Regions from separate parts of the Homo sapiens genome. Here all the other regions are linked to region 2. The links come from fine-mapping of genetic effects on gene expression. A gene starts in region 2. Each other region holds a variant in brackets. All regions are shown on one strand. Distances are from middle to middle.

Region 1 (4,244 bases), 130 kb before region 2:
ATTGTCAAAATGACATGACAGTCTGCCTGAAGGAACTCCCACAGGCCAAATATGGGCCACTTAGAACTTCAAAATAAATAATGACAATAAAGAATTATAACCCAATGTATACCATAAGAATCCATGAATACACACAGATGTAATATGAATAAAGGAATAAATCTTGAAATTGATGGAAAAGGGAAAGCTCTTTCTTACATGAGAAAATCAACTAAAAAATGTAGAAGAAATGATGGAATTAGAAAAACCACCATTTGGCAACAATCACAACAATAGTAGTAACTGATTCAGGCAAGACTCTAATGAAAACCAAAACCAGTAGGTACAAGTTTGAGGAGTAATAGGCTTTTTACTGAATCTCTATGTATCTCCCCCAAAATACGTACTGATTATAAGGAAAACAAAATAGTAATCTTCCAGTGGAGAAACCTGACAGACATCACCTTAATCAAGTGATCAAAGTTAACATCACCAGCAAGGTGACATCATGTGCTTCCCGATATGATGCATGAGAAGGATACGCCATCATTTCTGAGACATCCCTGCCAAAGGTGCCTAGCCAAAATCTAATGAGGAAGGTATCAGACAAACCCAAATTGAAGAACGTTCTATACAATAACTTGACCTATAGTCTTCAAAACTATCAATGTCACGTAAAAGAAAGATGAGAAACTGTCCAGATTAAAGGAGCCTGAAGAAATATGAAGGACTTTGTGTTGCTATGGACGTAATCAGAATAACTGGTGAGGTCTAAATAAGGTTTATAGATTATATAATAGTATTACATCAATGTTAATTTCCTGACTGATAGATAACCATACTGTGTTTATTTAAGAGAATGTTCTTATTTTTAGGTTACACACACTTAAGTATACTTAGAAGGAAAAAGCATTATGTCTTCAATACATTGAGACAAGGATAAAGTAAATGTAAAATGCTAGCAGAATATACAAGAGTTCTTCATATTATTCCTTGAAGTTTTTGGTAAGTCTGAAGTTATGTCAAAATAAAAAATTTTTTTAAAAAATACTAATGCCTCTAAATATCTACTAGTAATTATTTTCCAAAAGTTACTCCATACAAATATTCATACCTGTTCATTATAAATTTAGCTTGGCGCTTCTGTTTGATTTCTTCAACTCTCTTCATCGCATCAACTACAAAAAAATTCATGAGTTAGCAAATGTATGCACATTCAAGCGGTATGATCAACAACTGCATTAACAAACACTTCTTTATTATTCTGATTTAGAAATGAATTTACATGAAAAAAATCATTACAAAAACAATCCCTACTCAAAAAGCTGAAGAAGGTGTATACTCCTGGCCATCATGACTCTCAACATTCTCTTTCACAAGTATCATTTCTCTAATTTTTATCTGACAAAAGTCTCTACTGCTGTTAAATTTTCCTTCCACTTTAAACCAATCCAATGCTTTTCAAATTTTACTATAAAGAGAACTTGGACTACTGACAACTAATCCCATTCTTAACTTGTAATTTCCATGAATAAAGACAGCATCTTTCTGGTTATGAACACTTAAAAGTGCCTGGGATATGGTCAGCACATGATATTAGCAGAATGAACCAAACAATCAATACTACTAAGTTCTCAACCACAAAAATCCAACTGTTTTAGAAAATGCCTACAGGAGTGTTGGCTAAAAGGGGGCTGAGTCCAACTATGCTCTAAAATTTCTATCAGTACTATCCAATGAAAGACAAACCACATATGAAATTTTAAATTTTCTAGTAGCCGTATTTTTTAAAGTAAAAACGAACAGGAGGAAATTTAATGATACATTTTATTTAACCCAAATTTCCAAAATACTGTCACTCAACATGCAATCTATATAAAATTACTAGTGAAACATTTTATCCTTGTTTTCATATTAAGTCTTCAAAATCCAGCATTCATTTCACATTTACAGCACAACGCAATTTAGACTGGCTCAGTAGCTCAGACACTTCTGATCTAGTCTAGCTCTTTAAAGTGTAGTCTGTAGATCTAAAGAATAATAAGATATTTATATAGTCTTAAAGTATCTCTCAAAAGTATACTTATTAATTAAAAAGAGTAAAACAGTAACTCTTCAGTGGAAAAACCTGGCAGACACCACCTTAACCTAATGATCAAAGTTAACACTGCTAGTAATGGAACTAATGGACAGCTTGTGTCTCCTGACAAAACACACTGAAAAAACTCAGCAT[C/A]AAATCTCTGGTGCTCTTGCCAAATGTGCATTATCCAAACCTAATCTGAAGGAAACACCAAACAATCCAGTTAAGAAATTTTATACCAAACGCCTGGCCCATATTGTTCTAAACTGTCAATATCATGAAATATAAGGACAAACTCAGGAAATGTTCCAGATTACAAGAGATTAAAGAGACATGACATGTACTATTCTTACAAATTTTGCTATAAAGGATATTACTGGGACAATTGGAGAAATATGAATAGGACTAAGATTAGGTAATAATAGTCTATCAATGTTAATTTCTTGATTTTAATAATTGCAGTGTGGTTATGTGAGAATGCTCTTATTTCTGGAAATACATATTAAACTAGGGACCAAGAAGTATTTTGCATGCTTAAACAGTTCAGAAAAATATACACTAAAGGGAGAAAGGGAGAAAGAAGAGAGACAAAGAGAAAAAATTAATTTAACAAAATGTTAACATTCAGGGAGTCTGGATGAAGGATATCAGAGAACTCTACTCGTGCAACTTTTCTGTAATCTGAAATTAGGTCAAAATAAAAACTTTTAAAATGTAGCCTGGGACCAGTAACAGTGGCATCATTTGGGAGCTTGTTAGAAATGAAGGATTTCAGGCCCCACACAAACCTACTATATCTGAATCTACATTTTAACAAAAACCACCAGGACAATCTTTGAGACCTCTAGTATTAAAGCAATGTTTGTATAAATAACTCTAAGAAAATGTCAACTATAAATCTGCATATGCTGTAGCTCAGAATTAATAATATGCTGGATATATAACTTTTTTTCTTTGTCTTTCAGCAAAAATAAGTACAAGTTCTAGTACTCAAAAGCATTTCCACACTTTAAACTTATTTAGAAGGGAAATAAACACAAGTGGCAGGAAAATCCCTTCCAAAGAATAATATGCTGTATTTCCAAATATTCCAGAATACTGAAATATTTTGAACCTAAGAAGCATCTAACTGTACAATTCACAACTGCAAAGATATGGAACCAACCTAAGTGCCCATCGACCAACAAGTGGGTAAAGAAAATGTGGTATTTATACATGATGGAATAGTTCTCACCCAAAAAAAGGAATGAAATAATGTCTTTTACAGCAACTTGGATGGAACTGGAGGCCACTATTCTAAATGAAGTAACCCAGGAATAGAAAAGCTAACACTGTATGTTCTCACTTGTAAGCAGGGGCTAAGCTATGGGCACGCAAAGGCATACAGAGTGGTATAATGGACTATGGGACTCAGAAGGGGGAGTGGGGTGGGGTAAGGGGTAAAAACTATAGATTGGGTACAATGTACACTACTCAGGTGATGGATGCACTAAAATCTCAGATTCTGACAATCTACAATTAATCCATGTAACCAAAAAAACCACTTGTACCCCAAAAGCTATTAAGATTAAAAAAAAGTTCAACAAAAATATGTAAAAAGTTAAAATAAAAAATAAAAAAAAATCTGACAGATATTAACAATTCACCTGCAACACAGACAGCCATGAGGGACAAAGTGCAAACTATTTTTCCCGGTATTTTTGAAATTCTAACATACTACTGTTTCTACAGACATCAGTACCTTAACAAAGGTTGTTTAATCCATATCCTCACACAATTTGATAATGTAAGCAATGAATATACAACTCTTGTCAATAGATTAGTTTATAGACCAAATGATACTGAAATACGAGGGGTGTGGAGAATCAATGAATCTCTTAGAAGAATAATATATTGTTCTGGAACACTACTGAAAACAACTTTTCTTAATTGTATAAAATATCATGAAACAATCTTAAATTCCAAAGACTCTCATACTATTTACCTAGCACTCATACTGTACACTTAGCAGATCTTCTCAGAAAAATCTATTTTTAGGATCCCAGTAAAAAGGAAAGCAGAATCAGTGCAGGAAAAAAGAAATCAATAGAGCACTGCTTCTTACAGAATTTACAGATGTATAAATGTGGGGGGCAAGAGAATGAGACTCTGTAATAAAACCTAACAGAAACAATAAAATAGGAGT
Region 2 (4,243 bases):
TGACAAATATACAATAAACATTAAAATTAACAGTGTTAGGTTAAAAAATCATTATCCATGATTTATTTTTAAGTACATCTATGTTTTTGCTAGATTAGAGTTAACATAATTAAATGGAACTTTAAGCAATTATTACAGTTCATCTCCATGAGGTATTTGTGGGTTTTTTTGCTTTTTGTTTTTTTAGATGGAGTCTCGCTCTGTCACCCAGGCTGGAGTGCAGCAGCGTGATCTTGACTCACTGCCACCTCTGCCTCCCAGGTTCAAGTGATGCTCCTGCCTCAGCCTCCCAAGTAGCTGGGATTACAGGCGCATGCCACCAAGCCTGGCTGATTTTTGTATTTTCAGTAGAGACAGGGTTTCACCATGTTGGTCAGGCTGGTCTTGAACTCCTGACCACCTGATCCACCCGCCTCGGCCTCCCAAAGTGCTGGGATTACAGGCGTGAGCCACTGCGCCAGGCCTAACTCCATGTAGTATTAACTTTTCTTCTCTTCTGATTCTTGTACCAACTGCATCTTTTCTTTTAATTCCTTCTGATCTTTGGCATACTGTTCAAATACTGGTTGAAAAATATATACTCCTCCAGCAATTCCAAGGACAGTGGCAAAAAGCAGTTGTGCAAAAGTCAATCTCCTAAACATTGCTGCAACAAATACAGCTCAAGGAAAAGCTGGTTTTGGAAAGTCACACTCCACACCCAGGAAATCTCTTCAAATCTGCATACAAAAATGGAAAGCAAAGCCATCACTTAGTACAATGTCCTTTTAAAAGATGTTATGTCACTACTTTGCACTGGAGTGAACAATATTTTTATAATATGTTACTAATTAAAACAAGAATATAAATACATAAGGAGTACAGGAAGTGAATTAGGGAAGGGTATAAGACAAAACTAAAACCTTTTCTATTACAGAATGTTCTCAATGGTTTTAAATGCATACTTTTTCTTTTTTTTTTTTTTTTTGAGACGGAGTCTCGCTCTGTCGCCCAGGCTGGAGTGCAATGGCGCAATCTCGGCTCACTGCAAGCTCCGCCTCCTCGGTTAACGCCATTCTCCTACCTCAGCCTCCCGAGAAGCTGGGACTACAGGCGCGTGTCACCACACCCGGCTAATTTTTTGTATTTTTTGTAGAGACGGGGTTTCACCGTGTTAGCCAGGATGGTCTCGATCCTCTGACCTCCTGATCCGCCCGTCTTGGCCTCCCAAAGTACTGGGAATACAGGCGTGAGCCACCGCGCCCGGCCTGGTTTTACTTTTAACAAGAGGAGTGGGCCGCACGCGGTGGCTCACGCCTGTAATCCCAACACTTTGGGAGGCCGAGGCGGGCGGATCACGAGGTCAGGAGTTCCAGACCAGCCAGGCCAATATGGTGAAACCCCGTCTCTACAAAAAAACACAAAAATTGGCCAGGCGTGGTGGCGCGCCTGTAGTCCCAGCTACTTGGGAGCTGAGGCAGGAAAATCACTGGAACCCGGGAGGCAGAAGTTGCAGTGAGCCCAGATTGCGCCACTGCACTCCAGCCTGGACTACAAGAGCGAAACTCCGTCTCAAAAAAAAAAACAAAAACAAAAACAAAAAAAAAACCTAACAACAGCAACAACAACAAAAAAAATAGGAACCATTCGGCCTGTTTCCACATCTGTACAACAAGCTAAATCATCCCTACCCTGCCTACCTCGTTGAACAGGCATTTTTTGTGAGAGCAACGAACCTGAAATGTTAACACCAACACTGACGTCTACAATTACCGTTACCGTTTTTAATAACCACTCAGGTACCTCCGACTGTTCTGCGCCTGCTCCACGTCACTAAACTCGCTACCGCCTGCTCCCCTCCAGAGACCGGGGGCCTTCCAGCAGTTTTCGGACCCCCGAGCACAGAGACCGCCAAGCCAAAGGCGAGTAGCAATCCCTCGGTTCGGAAACGGCGAAAGGAAACCGCAAGGAGGCCACCACGTCGGGTGGGAGCTACGAAGTTGCCCGTTCCCGGTTACTTCCGGGCTTGCGAGCGACGACTGCTCTCAAAGGCCAAACTTAATGGATGGACGAGCAGCGCGCTACTGCAGCTTTCTTCCGCCTTAGGAAGGTGGCGGCCAGGGATGAGGAGGCCCCTAAGCAAGTGCGGAATGGAGCCGGGGGGCGGAGATGCCAGCCTCACTTTGCATGGTCTCCAGAACCGCTCCCACGGCAAGATAAAGCTGCGAAAGAGAAAGTCTACCTTGTACTTCAACACCCAGGAGAAGAGCGCCAGGCGCCGCGGGGGTGAGTGAGGGGACACTGTCTGGAGAGCTCCTACCCCCATCTAAAAGGAACCCCCTCCATTTCATTACCAGCCAGTTGCCCGTTGAGCTCTGTGTTGCCAGATCTTGAGTTTTGAAATGCTGGGAAATGCTGGAAACACAGATTTTAATATAAATTCTGATTTTTAAATGTTGGCAACTAAATTCAATTTTTTAAAAAATACTCTGTATTTGGCCGACAGGCTGTCCATTTGTGGTCAAGAGCAGGACTTTGGAGACATCACACAGACCCGGGTTTGAATCCTGATAAGTAATTTACAACTTTATTTGGACAAGGCAGTTTAATTTCTGGGCCTCAATTTGCTCGTCTGTAAAATGGGGCTAATAATACCTATCCCATAATATTGTTTGGAGGATTAAGTGAGATGCATGTGAAGAAATTAACACAGTGCCTGGCATATATAATAGTAATCATCAATATATATGTACAGAGGACCATTTTATATTGCACATATACAAAGGGCTGCTTCCCAAATTAGTAATTTGTTAGCTGGTTTCTTTCATTAGATACACACATAGTATGACCTAATTAATTAGCCTAAGGCCTTAGTTAACCCACTCTTTTTTTTTTGTATTTATTTTAATATTATCTTTACACAATAAGTTGCAAGAAAAGTTGGTTAAACTAAAAGAGTGGCAGTCACCCAGTGATGACGCTGTGGTGCTTGTATAACCAACCAAGTTGGCTTTAAGAATGGTGTGGAGGGACCAGAGGTCACTACTGTGCCTTACAAGGAGCCAACCAGAGCAGCAGATTTTAAGTTTTGCAAGTGGAACTGCCTGACTTTTGTGCCACTATTACCTGTTTTGTTCTGTTTTTCAGATCTTCTTGGAGAAAATATTTATCTGCTCTTGTTTACCATAGCTTTACGAATATTAAACTGCTTTTTAGTGCAGACAAGTTTTGTTCCAGATGAATACTGGCAGTCTCTTGAAGTTTCACATCACATGGTTTTCAAATATCCTTTGTGGTTTCTTTTCCAGACTATGAGTGTGTATTCATCTTGGAAATTGTGCTCAGTTTCTTTTAGAGTAGTCCCCCTTGCTCCCTCGTCTTCAGTAGATAGTTTCCAAAATCCCTAGTGGATGCTTGAAACTGTAGACAGTACCAAACTCTATATATATTGTTTTTATATATGTAAAAAATACACACACGCTTATGATAAAGTTTATACAAATTAGGTACAGTAAGAGATTAACAGTATTAAAATATAACAAGTATAACACAATACTATAATAAAAGTTATGTGAACTTTTATGTGGTCTCTCTCAAAATATCTTCATATTTTCAGACAGTGGTTGACTCTGGGCAACTGAAACATGGAAAGAGAAACCACAGATAAGGGGGGACTACTATACATATTTTCAGTTTTCCGTATTTTCCCCAAATAATTTTAACTCATCAAAGTATACCATTATTTTATACAAATATTTCTCCTGTATCTTTCTTTTATGTTAATATACTTGACACAGCCGTTAGCATACATTCCCACAGTACTTAGCACTTGGAGGATACAGAGAAAGTAAAAAACACATTACTGCCTTGAAGAAGTTAAGAGTTTAGTTGGCCAATTGAATTTTTAATGCAAATATCCAGTATAAAATGCTGTTTTAAGACTGCCACAAAATAAAATATTGTTTTATAAATGGAAATGAAAATAGATTTTGCCAGGTGAAGTGGTGTGCACCTGTAGAGGCAGGACCACTTGAGCCCAAGTTTGAGACCAGCCTGGGCAAGAGAGTGAGACCCCATCTTAAAAAAAAAAAAAACACGGAAATAGGTTTCAATATTATTGGACATTTACTCCTTAATGTTACTAATTATGGTTATTTGACTTGGGAATGGACAGAGAGACTGAGGAGTTACACTTATCCCTTAATCTTTGCAAGCATTTACAAGATTCTTCATCTTTTAGGGAAAGATAGTGTTCAGTTGCTGG
Region 3 (4,244 bases), 41 kb before region 2:
TGTTGGCAAGGATGTGGAGAAAAGGGAACCTTGTACGCTGTTGGTGGGAATACAAATTGGTACAGCCACTATGGAAAACATTATGGAGCTTCTTTAAAAAAATGTTTTCAAAAATTTTTTAAATAGAATACCATAGGATTTGGCAATCCTACTTCTGGGTATAATACATCTGAAAGAATTGAAATCAGGATTTCTAAGTGATATCTGTACTCCCATGTTCACTGCAGCATTATTCACAATAGCCAAGACTTAGAAACAACCTCAATGTCCACTGACAATGAATGAATGAAGAAAATGTGGTCTATACATACAATGAAAAAGTATTCAGCCTTAAAAAAGAAATAAATCCTGCCACCTGTGACAATACAGATAGGTGGAAGATATTATACTAAGTTAAATAAGCCAGACACATAAAGAAAAATACTATGTGATCTCCCATATATTTAATATATAGAATCTAAAATGTCAAACTCTCCAAGCATGGTGGCCACTCCTGTAGCCCCAGCTACTCAAGAGGCTGAGGCGCGACAATTGCTTGAGCCTATGACTTCAAGGCTGCAGTGAGCTATGATCACGTCACTGCACTCCAGCCCGGGCAGCGGAGTAAGATCTTGTTTCTAAAAGAAAAAATTTTAATTTAAAAAAAAGTAACTCAAACTCCCAGAAGCAGAGAGCAGAATGATGGTTGCCAGGGACTGGGAGGAGGGGGAAATGGGAAGGTCATAGTTAAAGAGAACAAGTTTCAGTTATGCAAAATAAATAAGTTCTGAAAAGCTATTATACAGTATAGTGTCTATAGCTAATAATACTGTATTATATACTGAAAATCTGCTAAGAAGATAGATCCAGTGTTAATTGTTCTTACCACACACACACAAAAATGCAATAATAATAAAACAGGCAGGATAAAACCTTGGGAGGTGATGGATACATTTATGGCCTTGATGGTGGCGATGGTTTCATGGGTGAATAATTATCCCCAAATTCATCAAGATGTATACATTAAATATGTACAGACTTTTTATCTGTCAATAATACCTCCCATAAAGTAGTTTTTTTAAAAATAAATTGTTAAGTAGGGGAAGGAAAGAATGAACAAACAAACGTAGGAACAAATGAACAAACTCAGGTAAGAAAGAGGAGATGAAAATGGTATACTTGTGGCAGGGGTGGATGGAGCAATGAGCTAAATTCTCTACTTCTGTAATAAAGTATCAATAGATAATGACTAAAACTGAAAAACTGACCACAGAAATATAAATGTGTCATTTAGAGACTAGATGTATAAACTACTGCAAGACTTCAGTGGTTAACTCTGGAGAGCAGGAAATGGGCTGGGGGAGAGGCGTCTACTGGTTTTTTGTAACAGCCCTTGTAAAACAACGTCCACGTATAACTTTGGTAAATTTGGCAGGGCACGATGGCTCATACTTGTAATCCCAGAACTTTGGGAGGCAGAGGCGGGCAGGTCACTTGAGGCCAGGAGTTCGAGACCAGCCTGTTTGTCTCCATAATAAATGGCTCCTGACTGCTGTATTTATTTCGTGTCTTTTGTTAATTTATATTTCCTTCTCCCTCCCCTCACCTTTGCTGTCAGGCAGCTATCCCTCACCACAGTAATCAGTGTGCCTTCCTGGGACAACCCCTACCCCTTCCGATGCACTGTTTTTAATTGACAAGGCACCTGGAAACCAAATAACCAAGCTTATTAGAACTGTGTGTAAAATGAAGAAAAATGGGCACCAAAAAATGTTCTGAAAGTTGCTCTGTGATGCAGGTTGGCAATTTTCAATACATTAACCATTTGTCCAACTCAGAACCGTTTGGCCTTACTATCAACTATGGGTCAGTAGGCTGGGTGACACTCAGTGGGACCAACCATCCCAGTTTAGTGGGGACTGAGTTATAGCACTGAAAGTCATGCATCCCGGGAAACCATATCCCAGCATTGGGCAAGTTACTTCATCTTCTTCAACCTGTTTCATCATCTGTAAAATGAAAGATAATATCTGCTTTGAAAGATTGTTGAGGATTAAATGAGAAAATGTTTGTATAACTCTTGACACATATGGTAGCTGTAGCTATTATACTCACTTGCATATTGTTATTATCAACCCTAGTATCAGGTAGAAAAAGAAAGTATTCTTAGAAACATAACCTGTAATTTGCTTTATATATAGTGGACTTCAGGAAGCTGCAATGTTTGCTTTTGTGAATTTCCTTCCCATTTTGTAACACACATTTTGTTTCAGGGACTAAAACATATTAAAGAAATTTAATAGTTCAACATTTCTGATTTCTCTACTGGACAAAAGCCTGGCAGGTTTCCACTATATTTTCATAGAAATGACTCTTTTACACTATGGGAGCCCTGGGGTATTTATGTCAGTAGCCGCTTCTAAACTTGTGAACAGAAATCAGCCTGCCACCTCACAAAGAAGAGGCATCATATCTGAAATTTGTTTTTAATTTCCATTTCACTTTTTTCCTTCATAATAGCACCAGATTATTCAGTCTTCTAATCATTATT[AT/A]TTTTTTTTTTTTTTTTTGAGAGGGAGTCTCACTCTGCCACCCAGGCTGGAGTGCAGTGGCACGATCTCAGCTCACTGCAAGCTCCACCTCCTGGGTTCACGCCATTCGCCTGCCTCAGCCTCCCAAGTAGCTGGGACTATAGGCGCCCGCCACCACGTCTGGCTAATTTTTTGTATTTTTAGTAGAGACAGGGTTTCACCATGTTAGCCAGGATGGTCTCGATCTCCTGACCTCGTGATCTGCCCGCCTCAGCCTCCCAAAGTGCTGGGATTACAGGCGTGAGCCACCGCACCTGGCCCAGTCTTCTAATTATTTAGTGAATTCAGTACGTTGACATGGGGCTGAAAAATCTGCATTTCTAAGTTCTAAGTTCTAAGCCAAGTCATTCACTAATTATGTCAATTCTATCCCTGAAAAATAAGGGCTTGTATCACCAAACGGATGAAATACCATTTCTGAACTCAAAAGCTGAAGCAACTCCCTACTCCACATTTATTAATTACAGCCTGAAGGAAATTGCTCACATCTATGCACCCCACAGACAAAAGGGCACAGTTGCTAAAAGAACAGTTCCAAACTTTGGGATAGATAATGGAAAGAATCACAAGTTACTCAAAGCCAAAATATGGCCTAGGAACCCTCTAAGAAGCAGTAGAGACAGCAGAAAGAGCCAGGCAGATAAGACTCTTAATAAAGGCCCCCATGGCCTGTCCTCCCATACTCTTCTATTTCTTCTCCACCCAGTGTCCGAGGCCTGTGACCACAAAACACAGGACAACACAGAACCTCAGAGAAGCCTTGAGGGGCAACTGGTCAACCAATTAGGGCAGGTGAAAATGGATCCAGGACTGGCAGCAGAATCACCTAGGATATGTGATGAAAATCCAAAATTCTGGGTCCCATTCAGGCCTCTGAATTAGGATCTCTGCAAGGGAGGCCTAGGGAATCTGCATTTATATCAAGCTTCCCAGGGGCTTTCTGGTTATACACAATCAAGTTTGTAAGCCACTGTTCTAGGGAGACAACAGATGGCAAAAATGTACAACTACAGTTAGGCAAATAGCCTGTACATCAAGATCATATTTAACTTCTACTAGCCTCAGATACCAAATCTGTAAAATAGGGATAATAATACTGACCTAGCAAGGTGGTTGTGAGAATCAAATGAAATAAGTAATAGCCTCACACACAGTGTCTCACATACAGCAGGTGCTCAATAAAAGTCCATTCCCTCGCTTGTGTATGGCATTCTAATGAAGACTTACAACAATAGTTTTTGAATAAATGTCACCTGTTTTGAATAAATATCACCAAGGAAAGCAGATGGCCAGGAAAGTTAAGGCCTCAATGTTAATGACTCATCAACTACAAAGGCCGAGGTCAGCAGCCTTAACCAGCGATTGAGTCATGAAATGTACTTGTAGACAGTGGTTCTCAAGCTTCGGGGTGCATCAGAGTCACCTAGATGGTTTTAAAACACAGACTCTAGGCCCCACCAGAGTTTCAGATTCAGTAGGTCTGGAGTGGGGCTGAAAATCTGCATTTCTATGTTCCCAGGTGGTGCTGATGTTACTGGTCCTAATCTGACACTTTGCAATAAAAAAAGAAAAACTATGCTGTGTATATTTCCTGTTTGACACTAGACTGGTTAGTTTCATGTAAATAGAGAAAAAAACTAAGAAACCAACAATTTCCGAGGCTGTGCTGCCTCT

Alleles and levels. Positions count from the first base shown, and alleles are read on the strand shown. Sizes are in standard deviations (SD) of each study's normalised expression. Not every link is listed here.
With allele A in place of C in region 1, the expression in cerebellar hemisphere of the gene that starts at base 2,074 in region 2 is higher (moderate effect, 0.58 SD a copy in GTEx).

What was found. PIP is the estimated chance that this variant, and not a neighbour inherited with it, causes the effect.
Region 1: its variant is the best candidate, but not a certain one, in a credible set for the expression of PIGB in cerebellar hemisphere (GTEx, PIP 0.71).
Region 3: its variant is the best candidate, but not a certain one, in a credible set for the expression of PIGB in whole blood (INTERVAL, PIP 0.89).

The regions. Positions count from the first base shown.
Region 1 is chr15:55,184,269-55,188,512 of GRCh38, forward strand. It overlaps RSL24D1 (ribosomal L24 domain containing 1), which reads right to left. Exons shown (of 6, transcript NM_016304.3): 4 at 1,094-1,157. Among named protein-coding and RNA genes, the nearest start is that of RSL24D1, 11 kb to the right of the region's middle. The variant C/A (reference allele first, on the strand shown) is at 2,213.
Region 2 is chr15:55,317,149-55,321,391 of GRCh38, forward strand. It overlaps PIGB (phosphatidylinositol glycan anchor biosynthesis class B), which reads left to right and starts at 2,074. Exons shown (of 12, transcript NM_004855.5): 1 at 2,074-2,265; 2 at 3,127-3,262; 3 at 4,125-4,242. The coding sequence starts at 2,103. PIGBOS1 (PIGB opposite strand 1) reads right to left here and starts at 1,975. Exons shown (of 2, transcript NM_001308421.2): 1 at 1,716-1,975; 2 at 36-719. The coding sequence starts at 644. The coding sequence ends at 480. It also overlaps a transcript of RAB27A not described here. RefSeq lists enhancers at 1,834-1,903, 1,954-2,043, 2,104-2,183, 2,254-2,333.
Region 3 is chr15:55,275,952-55,280,195 of GRCh38, forward strand. All of the region lies in intron 1 of RAB27A (RAB27A, member RAS oncogene family), which reads right to left. Among named protein-coding and RNA genes, the nearest start is that of RAB27A, 12 kb to the right of the region's middle. RefSeq lists an enhancer at 3,740-4,034. The variant AT/A (reference allele first, on the strand shown) is at 2,531.